4 linked regions of the Homo sapiens genome follow. The protein of the gene in region 4 purifies or fractionates together with the protein of the main gene of each other region. This does not show direct contact. Each region holds a gene or a part of one and is shown on either strand. Other genes may lie near its edges.

Evidence for each region.
Region 1: the proteins of MTM1 (region 4) and RELCH purify together in Homo sapiens (affinity purification with mass spectrometry; 2 studies listed by BioGRID and IntAct, with this or other methods). This does not show direct contact.
Region 2: the proteins of MTM1 (region 4) and RCN1 purify together in Homo sapiens (affinity purification with mass spectrometry, with the first as the bait; 2 studies listed by BioGRID). This does not show direct contact.
Region 3: the proteins of MTM1 (region 4) and KRT5 purify together in Homo sapiens (affinity purification with mass spectrometry; 2 studies listed by BioGRID and IntAct, with this or other methods). This does not show direct contact.

Annotation. Positions count from the first base shown.
Region 1 is NC_000018.10:62,260,226-62,267,264, reverse strand, and holds part of RELCH (RAB11-binding protein RELCH), read right to left. Parts: intron 5,755-7,039; coding exon 5,607-5,754; intron 3,277-5,606; coding exon 3,120-3,276; intron 2,537-3,119; coding exon 2,413-2,536; intron 565-2,412; coding exon 516-564; intron 1-515. UniProt on the Homo sapiens protein: Regulates intracellular cholesterol distribution from recycling endosomes to the trans-Golgi network through interactions with RAB11 and OSBP.
Region 2 is NC_000011.10:32,094,073-32,101,111, reverse strand, and holds part of RCN1 (reticulocalbin-1 precursor), read right to left. Parts: intron 3,969-7,039; coding exon 3,775-3,968; intron 2,763-3,774; coding exon 2,584-2,762; intron 565-2,583; coding exon 504-564; intron 1-503. UniProt on the Homo sapiens protein: May regulate calcium-dependent activities in the endoplasmic reticulum lumen or post-ER compartment.
Region 3 is NC_000012.12:52,514,059-52,517,417, forward strand, and holds the end of KRT5 (keratin, type II cytoskeletal 5), read right to left. Parts: intron 3,175-3,359; coding exon 3,049-3,174; intron 2,800-3,048; coding exon 2,579-2,799; intron 1,775-2,578; coding exon 1,740-1,774; intron 1,183-1,739; coding exon 884-1,182; 3' UTR 517-883; downstream 1-516. UniProt on the Homo sapiens protein: Required for the formation of keratin intermediate filaments in the basal epidermis and maintenance of the skin barrier in response to mechanical stress.
Region 4 is NC_000023.11:150,634,582-150,641,620, reverse strand, and holds part of MTM1 (myotubularin), read right to left. Parts: exon of another isoform or gene 2,860-7,039; intron 2,679-2,859; coding exon 2,595-2,678; intron 353-2,594; coding exon 203-352; intron 1-202. UniProt on the Homo sapiens protein: Lipid phosphatase which dephosphorylates phosphatidylinositol 3-monophosphate (PI3P) and phosphatidylinositol 3,5-bisphosphate (PI(3,5)P2). Has also been shown to dephosphorylate phosphotyrosine- and phosphoserine-containing peptides.

The sequences.
Region 1 (7,039 bases), on a different chromosome or scaffold from region 4:
AATGGTACCATAACTAGACTCGTTAAAGTAGATGAGTGAAAACTATCAATGAAGTAGCTGGAGCTACCCATTCAAGTCTGTAGTTTCTCTCATGTTTCATTTTGAAAACATATATGCTTATATACCGTTCTTTTCCACTATGTTTAATTTTTAAAAGTATTATAGAACTAATTAGGAATTAGATGCAGCTTATTTTATAATTGTCAGTCTCTTGAATATACTACTTCAGACCTCTAAAGGTTGAGTACCCAGGTTGTAAAGCTCAGCCTTATATCAATTTGGTTACAATGAAGGTATATATTCACAATCAGATTGACAGGGATTAATCTCACTGCCACTAATGGGAAGGATATTAGATGTGACACAGTTATAAAACCAAGAACTCCATAATATAAGTTTTCCTTTTCAATTGTAGTTGCTAGTTCATTTATACAATTTACATATATGGAGAATATAGTATTTTTCCTGCATAAAGAAATGCAATTGTTTTTAAAAGTAATAATGAACAAACTCACCAATGTTTTCTTCAGATAGTCTTAAAATCTCCTGGAACTGAGGTTTTACCTAAGCAACCCAAAGAGAAGATTCAAAAAGTCTCAGGTTCAATGGGCAAATTGATTAAATGAAATGTTTACTACTGTTGCTACTACTATTCATTTATTTATTTAGCTTTATAGATGACTAAGTTAAGTGGTCAGAAATGTAATAATTCTTAATCATGAGGCTTAGGATAGAAGAGTCAAATTAATGAAAATAAAAACTTTAAGGATAAATTTTTGAAAAAATCAACTCAAGTCAACAAGTGAATGGCCTCTGGTTTCTTTTATTAAATTAAAATAATTTCCAATATGATTTTAAGTGGTTGAAATTACTGCCTTCTAAAACTGAACTTGGTTATAGAAGGATTATTTAGGTAGATATTACATGGTTAGAATTATCGAAAAAAGCATTTGCCTGTATTTTTAAAAAACGAAAAGGAAATTCCAGTCACTTCAGGTGTTTAGTAAGTAACATATTCATCCTGTGATATTTATGTTCATCTTTTATTACAACTTTTCAAATTGAAATATGAAATACAGAATTTAACTTTAATATGTTAAGTTAGAACAGAGGTTTGTTTAAATTTTTTATTATTAAAATTATCACAGATTTCAGGCCACTGAAGACAACCACTTACTGTTAAGTACATAAGTAGATTCCTACTTGCTTTTCTAAAAAAAAAAATAGCTACTTGTTTTGGAGATATCAAACAATTTTTGCCAATATTGATAACAGGAAAATCAAATTATATTTGTTTAACAACTGAATGCTAGTGAAAAATACAAAATAATTTTAATTTTCTTTTTCCTACAATAACATCAAGGTCTGGTTTTTGCCCTCCTCTCTGTAGGTGAGGCACATTAATTTATATATTTAGCTTAAACTGAGAGAAAGGCCAATGTTAAAAGGTTCATGTACTGAATTGCGCTAAGAGAATTAAAAGACACTGAAGCAAATTCTTCATTTCACACATGAAAAGACTAAGCCCACATAATTTAACTTAAATAGTAAAGATCATAAACATTAGTCAACAGATAATAGGACCATAACCCAAGTCTTCTGAATTTTGTCCAGTTCCTTATAGCATACTATTTACTTTAAATGTTTCAACTATAGATTTAATAGTAAAGAGCTACACTAAATTAAATTTAATAATTAAAATGCTTACCTTTTAAATGTGTTTATTAACATTTGATTATAGAAACTACACCTTTTTATGTTTTTATTAGCTCTCTAAAGTACTGGCTTAACAAAATGTTATGAAGACAAATGGATTAATAGGATTAATGAATAAATTAGGATCTAATGACATTCCAATGTTAATATTTGAAACTACAAAATAACCTGGATAGGCAAATGTGACAAATGATACTTTTGGTAATGACTGAAACATGTAGAATTTATCTCCAGTGTCCATGCTATTCTAAGAGGTGGCATCTTCGCAGCAAGTTTTATATATAAGTTGCTGTGGTTCCATAATCGCTTGAGGTTTTTACCAAAGTGTGCTGAGCAAACAGCTGCTTCCTGAACCTGTGATAGACAGTAAGTACCAGCAGCACATTCAAAGGATTGTGGTTGAGTTCCCTAGCTGACACTTCCTATATTGAAAATCTTTGAGGATATCTACAATGAGTAAAGCTTATATCCAAGTCTGGATATGAACTAAGCTTAGGCTAAATCATCTTCTGAAAATCAGTAAAGATAAGAATATTACCAACTAGAACTTTTTTTTACTATCATAGTATTCTAGGATATTAAAGAAGCGAATTAGATAAAAGAATGGTTCATGCTTTTATTTACCCTGTTACAGTGTTAACACATTACATTTCTATGTCTTTTTCATATAAGAAAACATGGAATACAAGTTTTTACCTTAGTGTTTGTAAAAATTTTGCCAAATGTCCGGCAAAGGCGCCAGAAAAATCTGGAGAATTCATGGACACAGGCAGTTGAAGTAACATTAATTTTGCCAACTATTTCTATAAGTTGTGGCAACCTGAATATGAAAGGAAAGAAAAATAGGCAGGGGATACATATAAATTACTGTTTCCTTGCCAATTTCTGAAACAATGCAAATCTAATAACCTGTTCTATTTCGTTCTTTGAAAGGAAAGGCATTGTCTGGGACCCTCTGAATAGGTTGTAAGATTACATTATACTGTATAGACTTAAAAAAGTAAATTTTAACTGTTTGCCAGAAAATATATGAAACCTTAATGGTAGAATTCCGAGTACAGAGTTAATGTGACTCAAATCTATGGATCTGATGCTTCACACAAGAGCTTGGCTTTACATGGCATCATTTTAGCCTCAAAAATGAGAAGTCTAGATGTAGTTTAAAATCCATCACCACGATTGGACAAACAAGATGGCAGATAGATCATTCGGATAAAATACAGCAACATCTTCTTCTCAGATAAATTACATATCCAATGGTGTGAATCCTCTGTGTCCTAAAGGTGTTTACCAAAAATGATGCCGAGTTACATTTTAAAAGTTTTGTTATATTTTGTTCTTAGGGCCAAGGCTAAATATAAGAGTTATCATCTATTCAAATTAATATGGAGGTGGTAACTTACAATTGATTGACAACCCACAGTAAACTCTCCCAGCCTGTTGTACCCTCTTGTTCTAGCTGGTAGTCATAAAGTTGCAGCAGCACTGCCAATTGCTCACGACTTCCGATAATAGTGGACACATCTTGAAGAGGCGACATAGGCCGAGGAAACCTAGTCACTACACATAAAAGAAGCAAAATAAATCATATGGAAATTGGCATTTTGGGAACTTAGATATTCTGTTGAAAGGAAAATAAGGTCCTTTCTCCTCATATTTAATTACTTTCTTATTGTAAATTTTAAATATAAAATTGAAATACACTAATTAAGTCATTTTTAGGAAAATCAAGAAATTCCTGTGATATGAGAACAAATCCAACAAATCTCAAAAGATTTTATTCCCACAGCAGAATGTAAGCTCTATGAGCAGAAATTTTTATCTATTTTATTCATGATTGTGTCCTAAGTGTCTAAAACAATGCCTGACATAAATATTTGTTCATGTTGTGTAATAAATTGGTACTAAAAATATTTGTGTGGGTTACCATTTTTATGAGAAAACAAATCTTCATTCATAACAAATTATAACCCAAATTTTATGTGTGTGTATATATAAACGGACATATAGACATATGGATATACCCTAAATAAGGATATAATAAATCCTTATTTATAATAAATACATTATAACCTAAATGAAGGTATAGTAACATTAACATTTATAGCTACTGTTAAAAGTCAGAAAGTTAAACTAAGTCAACAAGAATGAAAAATAAAGGACAATCACAAGAAAAGGTCACATAAATGTTAGAAGGGAATCCCATAAGTATTAGAAGGATATGTTCAGGATGATACTGTTCTATCTAATCTCCAGCATATGCTTGGCAATAGATGACATTTAAGAATCATTTGTTAAATAAATGAGAGAATGATAACAAGTATTATGAGTTGAACTGCCCCCCGCCCAAATTTTTATGTTTAAGTCCTAACCTATAGTATCTCAGAATGGGATCTTATTTGGAAATAGGGTTGCTGTAGATGTAGTTAGACAAGATGAAATCATACTGAAGTAGTCGCTTATCCAACACAACCGATGTCCTTATAAGAAGGGAAAATCTGGACACAGAAACAAGCACACAGAAAGTGTGCCACGTGAAGATAAAGGCAAGGTTTGGGGTGATGCATCTAAAAGCCAAGAAACACTAAAGAGTGCCAGCAAACCACCAGAAGCCAGGGGAGAGCCCAGAACAGCCTTTACCTCGCAGTTTCCCTAAGACTACCCTGCCAACACCTTGATCTCAGACTTCTAAAATTCAGAAGTGTGAGATAATAAATTTCTGTTGTTTAAGCCACTCAGTTGGTGGTCCTTTGTTAAGGCAGCCATAGTAAACGAATACAGAAAGCTAAAAAGAAAAAGGGAATTAGAAAGATAGGAAAATCCCTAGGCAGATGAAATGCCTAAATGAGTAAGAGTAAAGGGGTAGAACCTGAAGTGGCCAGCTGGGAGAGCTTTATGAAGTCTTATCTAAAGTCTGAATTTTCATTCTCCTCAATTTAAAAATGTTAAATTAACTCCACACCATTCATTCTCAATTTTCCAAATAAAACTGACATCCAAATAGTATACACTATTTTTATCATGTGGCTTCATGTATCTTTGGACACACTGCATCATACTCCAAATATTATAGGTAGCCTACAGTTTACATGAAAAATGAAATTCAAGAAGATTGTCTGTTGATGTTCTCAATGTTATAATTCTTTGTCCATTAGACACCAGTAAGAGACATGGATAATTTCACAACTCTGAAAAGGCTGCAAAGGTGCCTGATACATAGCAATAGCTTGTCTATAGCCATTTGTCCTGGACGTTAAGGTGCAACAGGGTTATCAATTGCCTGTCAAGTTTCAAAGGTCATTTACTAGCTACTCGGAGAGTAAGATAAGAAAATACTGGCCTCTCCTGTCAATTTTATGTACTTCTGAAAGTAAGTCACATTTCTTCTTTGGAAAAACACAAATTCTGCCACAGATGCTTTTATATTTCTTTCTATCAAGGACATAGTAGAAAAAAGTAATTATATTTACCTTCCTCTATTAAAAATAAAATTAAAAAGTTGGGGAAGAAAATATAAAGAAAGCAGAAATGACAAGCTTCATATACTGGCACTAGTAACTATTAAAAGAATCTTTTGTTGACTCAGATCTATTAACGGAAGGAAATATTTATTTCAGCCTCCCCAGAAAGGCTATAAAAAGGCTATAGATTAAGAGCAACAAGAAAGTATAAGTATTATAAAATAAGACAATGGGGCTTATCCATAAAAGATGAAGCCATATTGTTTACCATACGTATAATCTTATGACCATGAGATTCTACACACATAATACATTTTAAAAATTATGCTGTCATATAAAGTGATTTTTAGACTTTTAATAAAAAACAATTCTTTGGGAAGCTAGGCTGCTAATATTCTACATTTTTCTTCCAGAATTTAAGTTCAGTACCTTCTATCTGTGGCACTTCACCATGAAGCTTGGCTTTGCTGGAGAAAGGTGCATTCTGTAGCACTAATGCAAAGAGAGATGGGATCAAGGACTGCAAGGCAGAAAGATACATGTGGAGTTTGTGTTCATCCAGTCCATGTTCTCCTTCCTGAAACATAAGGAGGTGGAAGCTAATTTTAGTCTTTTGAAGTTACATTGCTAATTGGATTTATGTATGATGTTCTTCCTTACTGTGGCAAATCAAAGATTTAAGGACCTTTATGTTGGACTCAAACAAGCAGTAAGGCACTCTAGAGTGGTAGAATCTTTTACATGGAAAACTATAGGGTAAACATCAGTCATTTCCATTTGTAGGGAATAGTTTTTGTAATTTTACTTTTTCATTAGAGAAGGTCTTATCTTTTGAAATTTTATAAGACAGGGTAAAGAAATTAAAGTAAGGGACAGGAATCACTTTATCTTTTTTCTTGTTAGAATTGATACATAAATAATTGTACATATTACGGGGTACCATGAGATATTTTGATACAGGCATACAATGTGTAATGATTGAATCAAGGTATTGAGATATGCATCACCTCGAACGTGTATCATTTCTTTGTGTTAGGAACATTCCAAATTTTCTCTTCTAGCTATTTTTCAAATATATAACACATTATTGTTAACTATGGTCACCCTACTGTGCTATCAAACACTAGAATGTATTTCTTCTATCTAACTGTATTTTTCTGTTCATTACTCCCCCAGACCCCAGCTTCTGGTCCATTTCATTCTTTACCTCCTTGAGATCAACTGTTTAAGCTCCCACATGTGAGTGAGAACATTCAATATTTGTCTTTCTGTGCCTGGTTTATTTCACTTAACATAATGTCCTCTAGGCTACCTGCTGCAGCAAACGACAGGATAGCATTCTTTTTTTAATGGCTGAATAATATTCCATTGTTTATATATACCATATTTTCTTTATCTATTCATCTACTGATGGACACTTAGGTTGATTCTATATCCTGACTATTATGAATAGTGCTGTAAGAAATATGTGAGTGCTTGAAACTCAACATGTAAGTCCTTGAAAGTATATATCTTTTCAATATACTGACTTCCTTTCTTTTAGATATATACCCAGTGGTGGGATTGGTGGATTACAGGTATTTCTGTTTTTAGTTTTGTGAGGAACTTCCACACTGTTTTCCATAGTGGCTGTACTAATTTACATTCCTACCAACAGTGTACGAAGGTTCCCCTTTCTCCACACCTTGACCAGCATCTTTTTTTTTTTTTTTGTCTTTTTAATAATAGTCATTTCAACTGGGGTGACATGATACTTCATTTTGGTTTAGATTTGCATTTACCTGATGATTAGTGATGTTAAACACTTCTTCATATAACTTTTGGCCATATGTCTTCTTTTGAGAAGTGTTTATTCAGATCAT
Region 2 (7,039 bases), on a different chromosome or scaffold from region 4:
AATTGTGCACTCTGTAAAGCATTTATCTTTCTAAGAAGAATGCCTTTCTGCAAAGTGCTCAGACACATAAACAGTTCTGTTAATCACAGCTGCATCTACTCAGAGTTTCTAGGCTCCATTGACCCAGTCCAGTTTTAGAGGCTTTGCCCTGACACTGTCTCCTCTATCTTCACTGTAAATCTATGGGATCTCCAATGTCCTTTTGCAAAGGTAAAACTAGGCAGTGTGATGAAGGGCACCTCTCAGAGTCATGGGGCCAACTGTTGGCCAGCCTTGTGTAGGGCCAGCCTTTTCATCTCTTCTCCACTGAATGAGGCCTAATAATACTTCCCTGATACTACATCACTAGGGCTGATGGGACAAGCAGGCTGGAAGCTCCCAGGAGTGACGTATAGACTTGCAGCTGTTGCTAAAAGAGACGTCTGGGGAAAGTAGCCAGACGTGTGGGTGGGGTCATGTGGCCCAGTCAGGACAGCTGAGCAAGACTCTAGGTCAGTACTCACCAATATACTCATCCTGATCCACAAACCCATCCCCGTTCTTGTCGATGTCCTCCAGGGTTTCCTAGGAAGCAAAAGGTAAAACAGAATGCAAGATGGCCATGTGCTCTAAGAAGTCTGAGAATTCTATTGTCCTCATTTGTCCAGCTTTTACGGCTGAATGCTTGGTGACTTCTGGCTCATCGCCTTACTTCCCTGGGAACTAGTTTTTTATCTGTAAAAAACAGGCAATAGTTTCTGTTCCTAATCCCCCACCCCAGTTTCCAGAGCAGAATGCTTTCTTCAAAGCAAGCAAGATGTACCTGTAACCCCAGAGGTGCTCTGACGATATCAGGAGGCCCTGCCAGGCCAACTAACTCCACCATCCAGCCAAAACACCCACTGGGGAACATGCGAGAAACCCAGTGTGAGAACCACTGGATTAGATGACCACAAGAATAGACTCTAGTGCTAACAGGACTATGAATACTGAGTTGGTGTCAAGAGAAATGTGAAACAGTGGGCAACTAAAAAATAAAAGTATATCTGACTTTTTGATGTATTGTGCTCTGTATTTAGTATACTTGACCTCTTATTCAGTATTTTTTGATTGGGTCAATAATTAAATGAGTTTACTGTTCATTGGCACAGCAACTCAGAGGCATCCTGGGTCAAACCAAAGAGCCAACCTGAGAGCAGAGAGCCACTCCCAAAGGCTCGTAGTCTACTCGGGATCATTCACCACCTGCACTGTCCTCTGCCACATTAGCTAACACTACATGAATGTTGAGTGGTAAAGAGAAATGATTCTTGGAGCCACTGCCCAGTCCTTACAGTCATGGCAGTCAGGAGGATGAAGCATGAGTGGACCCTTCCACCACCTGGATAACTAAAACCATCCACAGCTCGTGTAAACAAAAGCTCTAGCCATCTGTTTCCCAGGATTGAAACAGTTGGAACTGGGTTGGTGCATCTGCCCAGGAAAACAGGTGATGGCATTTATTTAATTGTCATGGAAAATGAAGACATTTGGGACCCAACAAGACACTACGGAAAGCAACTACATTCTGAGGCCTTACAAGCATAGTCATTCCTCAAAGCCTAGGGCCTGATCCACCCACCCTCCAAAGACCCACCCGCTAAGGGTAGCATCTCTTCCAGCCATAATTTTTACTTTACATTTCCATACAGTTTTAACAATCCAATTCATTCCATTTCTGAGTCTTTTTCCAAGTCCCTTAAAATTGAAAAATGGGGCAGAGACTAGCTAGTTGCTCACTTAAGCCATTTGCTCTTTCTTTTTTTTTTTTTTGAGAAGGAGTCTCACCCTGTCGCCCAGGCTGGAGTGCAATGGCACGATCTCGGCTCACTGCAACCTCCGCCTCCTGGGTTTAAGCGATTCTCCTGCCTCAGCCTCCCAAGTAGCTGGGATTACAGGCACATGCCACCATGCCTGGCTAATTTTTTTTGTATCTTTAGTAGAGACAGCATTTCAACATATTGGCCAGGCTGGTTTCAAACTCCTGACCTCATGATCCGCCTGCCTCGGCCTCCCAAAGTGCTGGGATTACAGGCGTGAGCCACTGTGCCTGGGCCCCATTTACTCTTTCTAGGCACGTATCTAAACTGTATTTCCCAGCCTCTTCATATCTAGGAGGGACCAGTGGAACATACGTGAAGGGGATGTGTCATTCCCTGGCCGGAAGAGTAAACAAAGACTGTATCTTCTCATTCCCTCTCTTTTCCTTTGTCAGCCAGCTGGGTGTTGCCAGGATGACTTTGAAGCTACAAGATGGCAGAGCACAAGCAGGAGTGCTTAGAGGAGAACTGGGTACCCAACTGTGCTCAGAGAACAGCCCAGGAGGTCCATCTGGCTGGAACAAGCTTTGCTAGTGTTAAATGGCTACAACTGGGGGCTATCTGTTACAGCAGCCAGCCTGACCTGACTAATTTTCTGGGTAGACGGGGATTCCAACAAACTCTACTTCAGAGTCCTTCTCCAATTCCCTTCAGGCTGAAAAATCTTCTCTCTTTGGAAGAGACAAGATTTGGAGGCAGTTTTCTCCCTGGTCTCTTCCCAGCCCAGACTCTTCACTTATCTTACCAAAACCACAATTTCCTTCATATGTTCAAACTCTTCAGGATGCAGAAAGGCAGTGAACTCCTCCCGAGTAGCTGTCAGGTCACCATTGAGGTCTGCAGCTTTGAATCTTCTCTCATCACGTGGCAGCATCTTTTTAAAGGTGTGATGATCTGAAGAATCATGAAACTCTGCGGGGTTTCCTGCAGGATGTATGTATGCAGAAATGTTTTTAAACCGTGCGGTCAAGAAAGGCGTTTCCTGCCAGATCACTCATCCTGCATGCTCAAATGGTACATATAGGGAAAAAAGGTCCCGACCTACTGAGTTCTTTAAAACATTCTATGTCAGAATGCCTCTAATATCAGTCCCTTCAAGCCACCCCATAATCTAGGCCTCATGGCATATTAGGGGAATTACTGCAAGTGGTTAAGAGCGCAGGCTTTAGACTATATTACTGCCATACTTCTCTTTGCAGAACTCTACTTTCATCATCTCATTCTTAGATCTGGAACATACAGAGGCTCTTTGGTACCCAAAACATCTTGTCTCAACGCCGTGCCTGGCTTTCAAGATCTCCCCGATTCTGGCCGCGTGAGTGCATCTTTGGTTCTCCTTGGGCCTGTTTCTTTGCCAACCTCACCATGCACCCAGCAGGTCTGCACCCCGTGCCTCTGTAATCTCATTTCTCCTTCCTTCTCCCGATCTTGTTTGTCTTGGATCTAAACCCTTCCCATTACTGCATGCATTGCTGCATCTTTGCCCCTCCAGTTGACCCACCTTCTCCAAATATAAATCCATTCTCCAAGGCTCCAGTTTCCAAACCACCCACACCAGGAAGCCTTCCCTGACTGCTCCGGCCCACTCAATCCTTGCTATCCAGAATTAGGCAGCATTTTGAAAATATACCACAGACACACTTCCTTTCTGCTTTCTTCTCCGTGTGTGCATCTGAGACGAAGTTGAGATGGGGTCTCAATCTAAGGGATTTTTTTTATTAGCCCTCACAGCCCTTCCCTCCCACCTGTAACTTCATTCAGTGTAAGCAACTCAGTACATTCTGAGTTTACAGAGGAGGGTGTTATACAAGCAGGTTCTACTTAGGAGGCTGTGACATCTCCCTGAAGGGAGTGGATATGATAAGAGAAGAGAGAGTCTACAAAAAGCTTGTGATCTGGGCCCCCACTGTGTCATCGCTCCTGCAGCACCTCTTACCTAGGTAGTAACCATAGGTGGCTTGTTTGTATTCTTCCCAGGAAATTTTATCATCCTTGTCCCTATCATAATCCTTCCAGACTTTGGCGACATTATCAAAGATGTATCTTTTCTGCACCCGTTTGATCCAGGTTTTCAGCTCCTCAGTAGTGACAAAGCCATCCCCATCATTGTCGATTCGATCAACAATCTTCCTGCAGTACAAAAAAAAAAAAAAAGAAACCCACACACAGGCACAAGGCTGTTATATTATCAAGGCTTGTGTGATGCTGGTCCAGCAAAAGATCAAACACCTGCACAATCCAAAATGCACATACAACTACAACAGAATCAATGATCCAAGGAGGCTGGAAGGAATCTTCAAGTTTATCCTTCCAAGGTTGATGTGCTTTCCCCCAACCAGTGCTGATGGCAGACACTGCTAATGGATCGTGCCCCTCTGTCCTGATAAACCTAGAGGTGCTCTCAGAATTCTCAGCACTGTGCTCTGGTGATGGCCATTATCAACGGATCAGAGCTGATCTGTAAGATGAAACCTATTAATCTTCCCTGCTGTAGTCCAGCACCCTCATTTTGGAGTAACGGAAACTGAGGCCCAGAGAAATGGAATAACTTCTAAGATTACACAGCCAGTATTTGGTAAAACTGGGGTGAGAACTCATGTCTTCTGGCTTAGGTCCAAGGCAAAAAGTGGAAACTGTATGTAAATCAAAAGATAAGTGATTTTTTTTTTTAAATCCCACCACCATGGATACAAAGACTTGAAACGTAAAGCAAGAAGACACCAGATGGTGGACACAGCACAAATGTCAGGGCTGAAGGAGCCTTGACATCATAGAATCTATTCACAAAACTTGACCAGCTGATCCGCTCTAGGAACCTTAAACCCTCTGCTCTTAGGGTAAAGACTCCTATACCAGCTCCACAGCTGGCCTAGGTTTCACAAATTTCCCACTGAACTCCACTGAGGTACCCTAAATGCTAGCCCAGAGCAAACTTCAGGCTGGGAACCCACTTTTGTCATCTCTAGACCAGATGGTCCCAAACCAGGACAGCATCCCAGTGGGGAACTTCAAAAACACCTCCAAGCTATCCCCAGTGTTTAAAAAAGTTTCACCCTTGTAGTCCATTTATCTGGGAGGAGGTCATACAGGCTAACTCTAGATTTCTTTCTTTGTTTTGGGCTGGAATTCTAACAGCTTCAGTGGTAAAACTTTCTTGTCAACAGACATTCTGAGTGGCAATTAATCTTTAATTAATAAAAAATGGGAAACAAATTCATCAGTTTGATAGTTTGACAGAGAAAATCTCCTATAACTTTTTTTTAGGTGGGGGAGGGTGTACACGAGAAGGGGAGGAGTGAATAATCAATGTCTCCACCTCCTACCTGAACCCAAGAACCCAAGCTCCTCTTTCTCAGGAAGGTGTAAACATCACCAACAGCTTGAAAGTACCCCTTCATTTGCAAGTTTAACAGGTCTCAATCCTAAAAGATAGGCTGGATCTGTGATCCCAGTGCTTCAGGAGGCTGAGGTGGGAGGACTGAGGTAGGAGGCCAAGAGTTTGAGAGTAGCCTGGGCAACATAGTGAGATCCTGACTCTACAAAAAATTTAAAAATTAGCCAGGAATGGCCGGGCATGGTGGCTCACGCCTGTGGTCCCAGAACTTTGGGAGGCCGAGGCAGGTGGATCATGAGGTCAGGAGATCCAGACCATCCTGGCTAACACGGTGAAACCCCGTCTCTACTAAAAATACAAAAAAATTAGCCAGGTGTGGTGGCGGGTGCCTGTAGTCCCAGCTACTCGGGAGGCTGAAGCAGGAGAATGGCGTGAACCTGGGAAGCTGAGCTTGCAGTGAGCCGAGATCACGCCACTGCACTCCAGCCTGGGCGACAGGGCAAGACTCCGTCTCAAAATAAAAAAATTAGCCAGGAATGGTGATGCATGCCTGTAGCTCCAGCTACTCAGGAGGCTGAGGTGGGAGGATTGCCTGAGCCCAGGAGGTCGAGGCTGCAGTGTGAGCTATGACTGTACCACTGTAAACAAGCCTGGGCAACAAATCAAGACCCTGTCTTTAAAAAAAAAAAAAAAGACTAAAACATGAAACTTCAAGTGTCTTCAGGCTTCTTCCCCCAGGAAATCATAGCCAGACACAGCAGAATTCTTTTAACATTGTGCAGTGTTGAGCCCAGTTATGTGCCAAGCACTGCTCTGATCCTGGGGACACAGTGGAGACATGCCAGTGGGTTACCCAACGCCAACTGGGAAACATAATCTCAGGGTAATGACATCAGACTCTACAATCCTCTTTTGTGGAAAGGACAGCATCTAATCTATGCCAAATAAACATCTAGGACATAGCTCAGCCTGACAAATATTAGGGACTCAATAAATATTTGTTGTAAGAATAAATAAGATCTTAACCTTCTCTTTAACAATGTCAAGGGAGATCCTGGGAAAGGCAGCTAGGATGGAGATGAAGCCTAGCACTTTCATCAGAACACCTGGATCCCCGTCCTGCCTCTGGTCCCCATTATCTGCGTGATCTTGGGCAAGTGTCTTGACTCTCTGAGTTTCCCCATCTGTAAACTGAACACCTACTTCACAAGGAATGTTGTGAGGAATAAAGGAGAGAATGCATGCTTTTCCTCACTAAAGACAATAATCTAGATCAGTGGCTGATGGTAGCTGCTACACAGTAGCCATTCGGGTGTTTGTTGCATGAATAAATGAATGAAGTTAAGGTGTTGATGCAAGGAGCAAACCCAGACCAACTCCATCATCATTTGTTCTCAACACCAACAGGTAACAGAATGAGCAAAACCTTTTGATGGGACCTATGGCCACTTGGAGGTACCCTGCTAGCCGCCAAATAGGGCTGGCCGACTCTGCTGCAGACGATGACTGACACATGGGAATAAAGGTGTCAAGAGAAGCCAGATATGGGGGTCTGTATGTGAAACCATTCAAACTTTAAACGTGGGCAAGTAATTTACACTGTGTCGCATATTTATGAATGCATGCAGCCTACGGGTTCCCACTTTGCAACCTCTGGTCCAGGTGTCTTTAGGGGCCTTAGAGCTGTCACATTTTCAGGACTGACAGGTGATGGTGACAAAGTTGCCTAGATCCAGCCACACTCATTCCTCCTCAGCCCAATCTTGGAGGGGACCACTGAAACAGAAGCTTTGGACAGAGGGGCAGCTTCTCACACTCAGCCCCATCCCAAACAGGACCCATAATTTCCAGCACCTCCTACCCCGCC
Region 3 (3,359 bases), on a different chromosome or scaffold from region 4:
TCCCACAGGTCATGCAAAGTCCTGCCACATTAAATTTCAGAAATTATTTGGTAAACCAAGAGCTACTCCATCCCTGACACTGTCAAAAAATAGCTATTGAGCATCTTAGCGCCCACAATATTACAATAGGACCAACATCTTTTAGGTCTTTTGAGGTCCTGAAGGCAACATATTCTTCATTTACAAACTTTACTTAAGCCCAAATATGCTGCTACTTGCAAATCATCTCACCTTGCATAGGGCCCTCTTTAACAAAAGGCTCTAAAATCTGTCTAAATTGTAGTACAATGCACATGCCCGTTAATGCCCTCCAGAGACTCCTTCATTGCAGAGACTTTATAATCTCTGTGCTTCTTGGAGTCTCTGGGCCACCCCCAATAGCCACTTTCCCTTAAATGTTATCCCATTCTCCCTGTGAATCATCAAAAGAACCAATCACATCTGGGTAGACTGACCCTCATGGTATCTCTAGGCTGATTGTAAACCTAGAAAAAAAAAACAATTCTGCACACCAGCTTATATTATAAAAGCATTTTATTGAACACATTCTGGAGGTAGTTAGAACCAAAACAAAATTTGGGATTGGGGTGGGGATTCTGTTTTGATGATTTAGATTTGGGAAAACTTTGGGTTCTCGTGTCAGCAGGGGCCATGCTGTGGGAAACCTGAAGGCTGATTTGAAGCAGAATATAGAACTGCGGCACGGGAGACCAGGGGCTGGGAATGGGGCTCTCCTGGGAACCAAAGAATGTGGTTCTGCAATTGGCTTGGTCTAGACTACTCTCCAGAAAAGGATAAAACATGGCTTGAGCAACTGCCTAGAAGAGGCAATCTCCATGGGCTGGGTTGCTGCACTTGGAAGGCAGTGACTTGCAGCAGGTTCTTAGCTCTTGAAGCTCTTCCGGGAGGAGGAGGTGGTGGAGACAAATTTGACGCTGGAGCTGCTACCCCCGCCACTGCCAAAGCCCACCCCCAGCCCTCGGCCACTGCTTGCACTGAAGCCAGAGCCCCCCACACTGAGCCCACCACCTAGGCCGACACCCCCACTGCTGCTGGAGTAGTAGCTTCCACTGCTACCTCCGGCAAGACCTCCACCGAGGCCGCCGCCAAGACCTCCACCGAGGCCACCGCCATAGCCACTGCCACTGCCATATCCAGAGGAAACACTGCTTGTGACAACAGCTGCAGGGAAAGGAGGGAGGACTCAGTGAGACCATCTGCCAGGCTGATCCTGCATGGCCCATTTATTTGATCTGCTGGTGTTGGAGCACTCTACTGGACCCCCTTTACAGAGTAGCAAACAAGGCCCGGAAGAACTGTCATTTAATTAAGGTCCCTAAAAAAGTGGGTGAGTGTAAGAGGCAAGGTGCTAGGTACTGAGAGGAGCTAGGTACTGAGGGGAGCTAGGTACTACAGGGAGCTAGGTACTGAGGGGAGCTAGGTACTGAGGGGAGGAGCTAGGTACTGGGGGGAGCTAGGTACTAGGGACAAGGCAGGGGACAGGGTCCAAGAAGCATAGGATGCATGGCTTACCCTTTAAGAGATGAGACATAAGCCACATTGCTTCCTGTCCCAATCTGTCCTTCCCCTCCACCACCCACAACTTACTAAGTGTATTATTATAAATAACCATATGCTGGGATGGGAAAAGTTTGGATCTAGAAACAGCAGAATTCTGAGTTGGCACTAAATATATCCCATATTATTGTCGTTGTTAATGTCTGTTCAAAGCTACTTACAGATGTTGACTGGTCCAACTCCTTCTCCACTGAGTCTGAAAGGGGAAAAATTGAATTAAGGGTTAACAGCTCCCAAAAAGACAGCATTAGTCTATGTGGCTAACTCCCATCCTCATGATTCGAGTTCATTCCATAAGCCAGGAGTCTGTACACCCAAAAGCTGCTTAAGTTAAAGGAAGGGAGAACTCTCCAGAGGGATTTTCCAATGAAGAGGGATTGACCTAGAAACAAGTTGTTAGGAAAGAATTATAATTCACATTCTTCTCCACCCACTATGGGGAAAGTATAAGAGATTTGGAAAATGTGATTATGTCGAAAGCAGTTTTTGCCTTGTAGGAGTTACATTCTGTGAGAGAACTTGGCACGGACAGAAATTCCTCCAACAGAAAGTAGGCAATGGGCAATGTCAGAGGTTGAAGCAAACAGTAGTTTGACAATCCAAAGGTAGCTGAGTTTAACTCAGCTGGAGTAAACATGAAAGCCTTCCTGAAGGAAGGGGTACTGGAGGACAAGGGTGGATGGAGGTGGGCATGACATGGATATTGAGGTTGAGCAAAGGACGTGAGCAAAAGCAGAAAAGGCACAAGTGTCAAGAAGATTGCTGAGTTGCTCAGGTGCTTGGAGGACAGCCAGTGCCCAGGAACACCGGTGGGGGAAAAGAGACCAGAAAAGTGAGTTGAGGTCAGCTATATGGCCATGAGTCAGACTGAAATAGTGTTGATGATGTGTCATTATCACGCACAAGTCACTGATCTCATGTATGTGTGTTGTACACCCCACAGTAGAGCAGCTTCGCTTTATCAGCTGAAGGCCATCTTGAGTTCATGCTGTCTACTCACCTGCATTCCTCGCCCTCCAGCAGCTTGCGGTAAGTGGCGATCTCCACGTCCAGGGCCAGCTTGGTGTTCATGAGCTCCTGGTACTCACGCAGCAGCCGGGCCATGTCCTGCTTGGCCTTCTGCAGGGCCTCCTCCAGCTCGGCCAGCTTGTTCCTGGCATCCTTGAGGGCCAGCTCCCCACGCTGCTCGGCATCCGCAATGGCGTTCTGCAGATTGGCGCACTACAGATAGAAAGGAGGAGAGTGGGGTTGCTTGGGACCTGAGGTGTCTCCTTCTGAGTTTCTGGGTCAGACAAACCAAACTATCATGAATCCCAGAGAGAAACCAGTACATCGTGGGTGGCAGGACACTGAAACACTGGTACTGGATCTAGCTGCGTGTGTTTAGCAAAAGTAAAACAAAATAAAACAAAGTAGGTGTTTCTTTTAGAACTCAGGCCCCTTCCTTGCCCTCTTTCAATCTCACCCTACCTGTTTCTTGACATTGTCAATCTCGGCTCTCAGCCTCTGGATCATCCGGTTCATCTCAGAGATCTCATGCTTGGTGTTGCGGAGGTCATCGCCATGCCGGCCAGCTGTCTGCTGCAGCTCCTCATACTGATGCAGCCAGGAAAGAGGAAAGATTCTGTTTATATGAGAATGGGAAGAACTTTCCCAAAGTTCACAGGCAGTGAGTACTAAGTGGTGGCAAATAGTGTGGGGCTGGTTCAGGCTTTTCCAAGGCTGAGCTAGTCTAGTGCCTTTGCTCTCCTGGAGACACTGGTGTGAGATTCAGAGTGAGA
Region 4 (7,039 bases):
TTGATCCTTAGTTGCAAGCTCCTAGAAGGCAGGTGACGGCACACTTCTTCTCCAGTCTGGTATGGTACTTTGTACTCACAAAGCACTTAGTAAGTATTTTTTGGGATAGAATTCCAAAAGGACCGTTTCTCTAAGTTATATGACTACCATTCTTATGGACTAAAAGGTGCTCTTCAAGAGAAACGTTAATTGCAGTACTCACTGGAATTCGATTTCGGGACCTAAAAGTTGCAACTCTCCGGAGGTCATCATCTGAGGCACGATACGGAACCACCAAAAGAGCAGGGTAAGTGTCACAGAGCTCATAGCACTTATTAATAAAAGTTATTCTCCAATGGTGATTGGGCAAGCCCTGTGAGGAAAAAAAGAAATTCAAGTCAGTATTGCTTGACCTCATCTCTGGATTTGGCCTTGGGCCTCTTTTCTTCCTTCTAGCAATATGTGCACATGCCTCTTTGACCACAGGGTGATGACGGTCTACCTATTTATAATAAGGGTGCCAAATCAATAATCCAGACAACGTAAGAACACAAGACAAAACACTGGTGGTTTTTACAGTTCTAAACTATACTTTGTAAATACAGATTCTCTTGAATTCAAAGGAATTCGTCTTCCTTTATTTTGTGTCCACATATTCTTTACTACCTGTACCACACAGATAAACCCAAGTTCATCCCCCGCCCATGCACCCCTCCCATCCCCTAAAAAAATACCCTGCTTCATCTTAATCTGGCTCTAACTGAGGGTAGAAAAGAGATCAGGCAACTTCCTCTCCCTGCTCAAAATAGAGTGAATGCTTCAGTCTGCTCCAAAGTGGAAAGAGGCTGAGCTCATGAAGAAAATCATGAGGGGAAGTAAAGGAAGATCCCTCTGGGGAGGCTCATTTCGCCACCTCCGATGAGTTTTTTTTCAATCAAGTTGTTCGGAATCGATGATTGCCCTATAGTTTGTGTGAGAAATACAGTCATTTGCATTTTAAGCAGACTGCTAATGTGACAGGGAGACACAGAAGACACCTCCCATCCTATCATCTCCCCCACAAAATTGTATTTAGTATGGAAAAGATCCAGAGGTGGTGGAATATTCTCTCCCCATTCTCACAAATGCACAGATACACACACAAAAGTGAGCTATGTGGGTGTTTGCTTTGGGGACAGACATTGTACCTTTTCTTTAGGTCTGGCCCTAGAGACCACGGACCAAACAGATGTTGAGTCTGATGCTGAGTCCAATTAGACAGTTATAAGTCCCATCAGAAAGTTATAAGAAAAAAAGATTGAATATAATGGCAGTCTAGAACAAAATACCTTCAACAGTTCATATATGCATGCAATCTTAAAAACAGGAACTGTTTTGTTTCAAGCTAGAAGCTTTGAACTAAAAAAAAGTCTTAATGTTATCAGTAATACTTCAAAAAGAAGGTAAAAATATTTTAATACATCATTTACAGAGGTCTCCAAAACATGCAAAATGTTTTCATGGTCCTTCTTCCGCCTCAGTAGCTAGTCCAGAACTGAGGCCATTAAAATGGGAGTAGTGCAAAGCCTTAGAAAACTCAACAGTCTAAACGTGACTTATGGAAGCAACAGGATATACTATGTCACATATGTTCTAAAGCTAAACTCCTGCACCCAAATTCCAGAGCGTCAAATCTGTTCATGAATATGCAAACCGTTGATTAAGACTAAAAAAGGAAACCAATCCAGGTTTTTCATGGTGAAGGTGGTGACTAGATGGTTCTTCTCAAGTCTAGGGTTCTACGATTTTACTTTATATTCACTACCTTTTCATATAAAGCAAATGGGTTTGATCTGATTCTCAAATCTCATTCAACAAAACTTTTCAATTATCTTAAGAGCTTTGTAGAACAAGAATTGTGAATAATCCCATCACACAACTCCTAGCTGCCTACAGATTTGGTTATACCAGAGGTCAAACTGTGGCTCTTGTTACATATTATGCACAGAATTCCCTTAACAAAAATACTGCAAGAGACTTTTGTTCCTGAACAGCAATATGAGACCAAGCCTCTTGCCTTTATTATAGCAAATAAACATGCATGTAGGTGACATTCATATAAGAGAACAGTAAAGACAATTATAATGTACACTTATCAAAGCTTCCTTGAAAAAGACATCACTACAGGAAAACAGTTCTAATTCATTTGAATCTGCAAACTGAAATGAATATAATTTAAATCTAACTGCAGGTAATAGTTAAGCTCCCAAACATGCATATACATAGCAATATCAAGTCCTAAAGTGTAACTTCTAAAATGTTTGACTTTTCTAAATCCTAAGTATTTAATTCATTTCATAAACAACACAGAATTGATGCTCTTCATATAGGGAAGGAAATAGGATTTAGTGACCCAGTCTTCGATGCAGCTTGCATATGGCAATGGAATGAGCTTATAAGTTATACAGTAATAGATAGAATGAGATATATTGTACAAAATGTGGATAATATCACCACCATTGAAAAGATATTTAGCAAGGATGTCGCTGATTTTCAGAAAGCATGGCTGATGACATACTGTCATAATGCATGTTTCAGGTTCATCACATACCAGACAATAGCATCTAACATCTTACCTGCCTCCTGTATTCTTCCACTGGATTGTAAACTGTCCATCCATCCACGTTAAACTTTTCTTCATTTAAAAATGCAAATAATGGCTAGAAAAGGCAAAAAATAAATAAAGTTCAGCGTGAAGGAACAGTCTACTATTATAGTACATCTTTTGATTTCTCGCAAAATAAATTTCACCAGATTTGCCGACCATGAAATTACAACCCACACCAAGGCTTATAACAACAACAACAAAAAAAAACAGTGGAAAACTCAGATCAGACTTACGCTAACTTCTATCTTGAGTAATAGAAGCCTCAATTTTCTATGGCTATAAATCTCTCAATTGTTCTTTTAATGATGTTCCACAAAAAAATCAGATTACCAGACCAAAAAGTGCCTATCAATTTTAAACAGTATTAGCAATTGATCAGGTACAAGCCACTAAAAAGAAAGAAGGAAAGGAAGAAAAATAAAATTCAGGAATTATTGTTAAACGGTGCAACTGTCTCAAAAGGGAACAATGACATGTTTATTTTTTAAAAAGATAGGATATTAAGAAAACTCTGAGCTAACTGTTCTCTGTGAATTCTGAATCAATGCCCTGGTTTCTGTGAAATGGCAGGACTCAGACCTCTCACCTCTTCTCTATATATACTCACCCTCAACGTGCTGTTGATACATTTGATAGCTTCAAATACCATCCATACTCTAGTGACTAGTAAGGACCTATCATTCTCCAGCATCCCCTCTGAATTCCAGACTTGGCTATCCAAGTGTCCACTCTACCACCCCACCAGACTGCCTAAGAGGCATCTGAAGAACTCTCAAGTTAACACAACCAAAGCCAAACACTCTTGGCTCCCCCTACCCAGTCCTGCTCTTCCCACAGTCTCCCCATTTCAGTACATGACTTCCAGCTGATTGAGCTGAAAACCTTGGATTCATCTTTGTCACCACGTGGCTACCACCCAGGTCCAAGCCACCATCATCTCTTACTTGGTTGATTATAAAAACCTAACTGCTCCCCTGCTTTCATCTTTGTACTTCTCAAGTCAGAGTGACAGTGTCATAGGTCAGATCAAGTCCTTTCCTTGCCCCAAATCCTCCCGTAGCTTTCCACTTTGCGAGGAGTAAAGGTGGAAGTCCTTCCAATGGCTTATGCAGCTGTCTGCCATCTGGCCATCTCCCCCGCCACATCTCTGCTCTCAGACTCACTCGCTCCACGTAAGTCACACCTGCCTCCTGTGCCACTCCCTAAAGGCACCAAGCACATGCCACTCTCAGGGCCTTTGCGGCTACTATTCCATCTGCCTGGAATTCGTTTACCTCATGGCTTCTTGTCTTCTCTCACATCTCTGATCCAATAATCTTAATCAGTAAGACCTTCTCCGACACCCTACAAAAAAACATGTTACCCTCACAACAGCACTCCCTATTCCCATCTGATTTTCCCTATCACTTATGACCATTTGACATATTACATATGTACTTGTTCACTGTACATATGTACTATCCCCTCCCCTAGGACATGGGCTCCATGAAAGTACACACTTGCTTCATTCCCATCCTTTATCCCCAGTAACTACAATGGCGCCTGGTCAGAGGGAGGCAGAACACAGGCTCGCTGACCGAATGAAGACATGAAGGCCCACACAGCCCCTGTACAACCATCTTCTCTGGAGGCGCTGCGTCTGGGCACTTTTCCTCTATGTAGCTCCCTCCCCAACCATTTTCCTCTGTCATCAGACTAATCACTTTGAACACCAGTGTTCCCTCCCCTACAACACAGTGTATTTCTGGAAAAGCATCTTTCAGCAGCAACAGTTTTCTGCATGTGAATGGCAAGAGGTTTAAGGTGAAAACTGCCCAAGAACATGCTCTCCACAATGTCTTCTCAAACTTTCCCAGGCATGCAGCACACTCTGCAGGTCTCAACTCTGGCAGCGCTAGGCCCAAGTGCTGTTTATTCTGGATGGCTGGCATGATAAGCACACACTGGTAATGATGCTGACCTAGCTAAGCGATGCACTGAGGCTTTAACCTGACACTGAATCCACAGCAATGCATAATTATTCAGTACCACTGGGAAAAATAAGTGATTTCTGTTAAGTTTAAATTAAAGACAGAGGGACTTTGGGCGAAAATAGCACTAAAATGTTTGGTGCACTCCTTTATCCATAAACAGAATATATGGGACATGCCTAAGCATTCTCTTGGCAATATATCATTACTGTGAACATCTGATACTGCGCTGGTCAGTACTTGGCACAGGTAAACATTCAGGAATGTTGAATGATTTGAGTGATGTACTGTTAACATGGTTGTAGATGGTTTGAGGCCTAAGGCTCTACTGTCACTTTAAAAGAAAACCTAGAACTTGCTTTCTTGAAATAAGTTCCTGACCTCAACATGGTTTTTGTTCATTTGTTTTAGTTATTTGCATCTTTCCCATGAAGCTCAAGTGAATATGGCAGCTTTTAAAAACCAAAGAGAAAAATTCCTAAATTGAAGGCCCAGATAAAGCTTTCCTTCCAGAAAAAATCATCATGTGTAGTAATGCTATCAGCATTAACTTTCAAGCAGCATTTTCAACCTAAATTACTATTTTTTCAATCCCTAAGGTTAAAGCACCTTCTTTTTTTTGCTTCCAGTATTCCTGTATCTTACATGAAAATTTCTAAGTTTATAAAATTGTTATCAGAAAATCAAAGCTATATGGCCTAAACAAAAATTATCTACCTAACTTCCTTAATATGTTTTATAAAAGAACCTGAACAGAAGCAACATCAATTTTTTTTTGTCATTAGTATGAGACTGAGACAATGTCCCCATGGTAACCACACATCAGATGGACTCTCTGATGAGATCACTTCTATGATGATACTTCACATTCTGACTAATATCCAGAATGAGTCAACTAACTGGTATCCTTTAACCCGAAACATGTCTATTAGAATTGGTGACAAAAACAACTCCCAGTTTACTCTTGATGCTAAGAGCCAGGCTTGGACCCCAGATATTTCAGGAAGAATTATGAATCGCACAACAGCCAAATATTTCTCCTCGTGAAGCACATAGCAACACATCTAATATTAAATTGGAGCTTAGGGTAGAAAAGACTGGGTGCTTAAACCAATATTTTCACCATTCAAATAAATTAGCTTACAAACACAGAAAAACATTTTTCAAAAAGCATTACTAGGTAGTGTTTATGTGGTGTTTTTATTTAAAAACTAAGTTTTCCATAAGCTACTTGGCTCAATTGAAGTGAGCAGTCTGAAAGAGCCAATACCACCATTTTCTGAACTTGAAAGTACGAGGACCTACTTTTCAGATATATTTTCTTTTTTTCTTAAAGATTAAGAGAATATAGGCTCTCAGAGTAACATAAAGTTGGATTATTACAAAAACAAAAATAAAGCAATAACAAAACACATTCATCTGTACCTCATTATCAAAAAGCATAAAATCCCCTACAAGTGGTAACTTGTTACAAGCCTAATTAAAGCTCCTATTTCAAAATTGTTAAAACCTGAAGTGAATAGGTTATACGTCTTGAGGTTTTTAGCTGTCATTTACTTTCTCTTCCAGACAATGTATTCTTTAACACTTTATTAATGTGTTGACACTTTCAACTATTATTCTTAAATATAACCTTGGGTCAATTTTGACCCTTAATTTGGGAACTCTAAATCACATGGAGAGAGCTGGCTCTCAAGTATTTTCCACTATAACCATCAAGCGCGTCTTGTTTGCTAAATGGGTAATGATAAAGCTTACTCAATGAACACGTCCAAGTACTGATTTCATCGACTATGGAAAATTCAAGAACGATTCAGTCCCAATTGAGCAAAGTCTTAGGACAGAGAAGATGTTTTGCTGAGCATCACCTTTCAGTAGATGCTTCAGCAAGTCCTACGTGGCTTTCTTCTAGGGTGTGGTCCTTATCTACGGCTCTGCCTCAGAATTGGGGGTGAAGTGGGCTGCTTTTTCCAGAGGCTAAACCATGCCCTGTGCCCTGCCTCACCCCTACTGAATCAGAATCTCTAGGGGGTGACTTTCTACCTCCTTGGTCCTAGAAGGGCCATGTGGGATGTACCAGAACTCTCAGGAATGTAGCCTAAGGATTCTGTGTGGTCAAGCTGTTGGGGAGCTACTTTAGTTTGTTTTAGATTATTTTGAAATAATTATAGATTCACAAGAAGTAAATCTTCAGCCAGCCTCTCCAGGTGTTAACATCTTGTATAACTTTTAGCACAATATCAAAATCAGGAAACTGACAGAAGATACTCTCAAATGGCCACCCTCACCTTCCTCAAGTGAGCAAGTCATGTCTTCCTTAATTTTGCTCTATATTAGTATTTGGGCATTTCATCAATTCACAATTCACTAGATCCGTACTAGTCAAGAGATACTGTACATGGAGACTTTTTTTTTTTAAAGCAATCATGTGCATTGTTTCCGG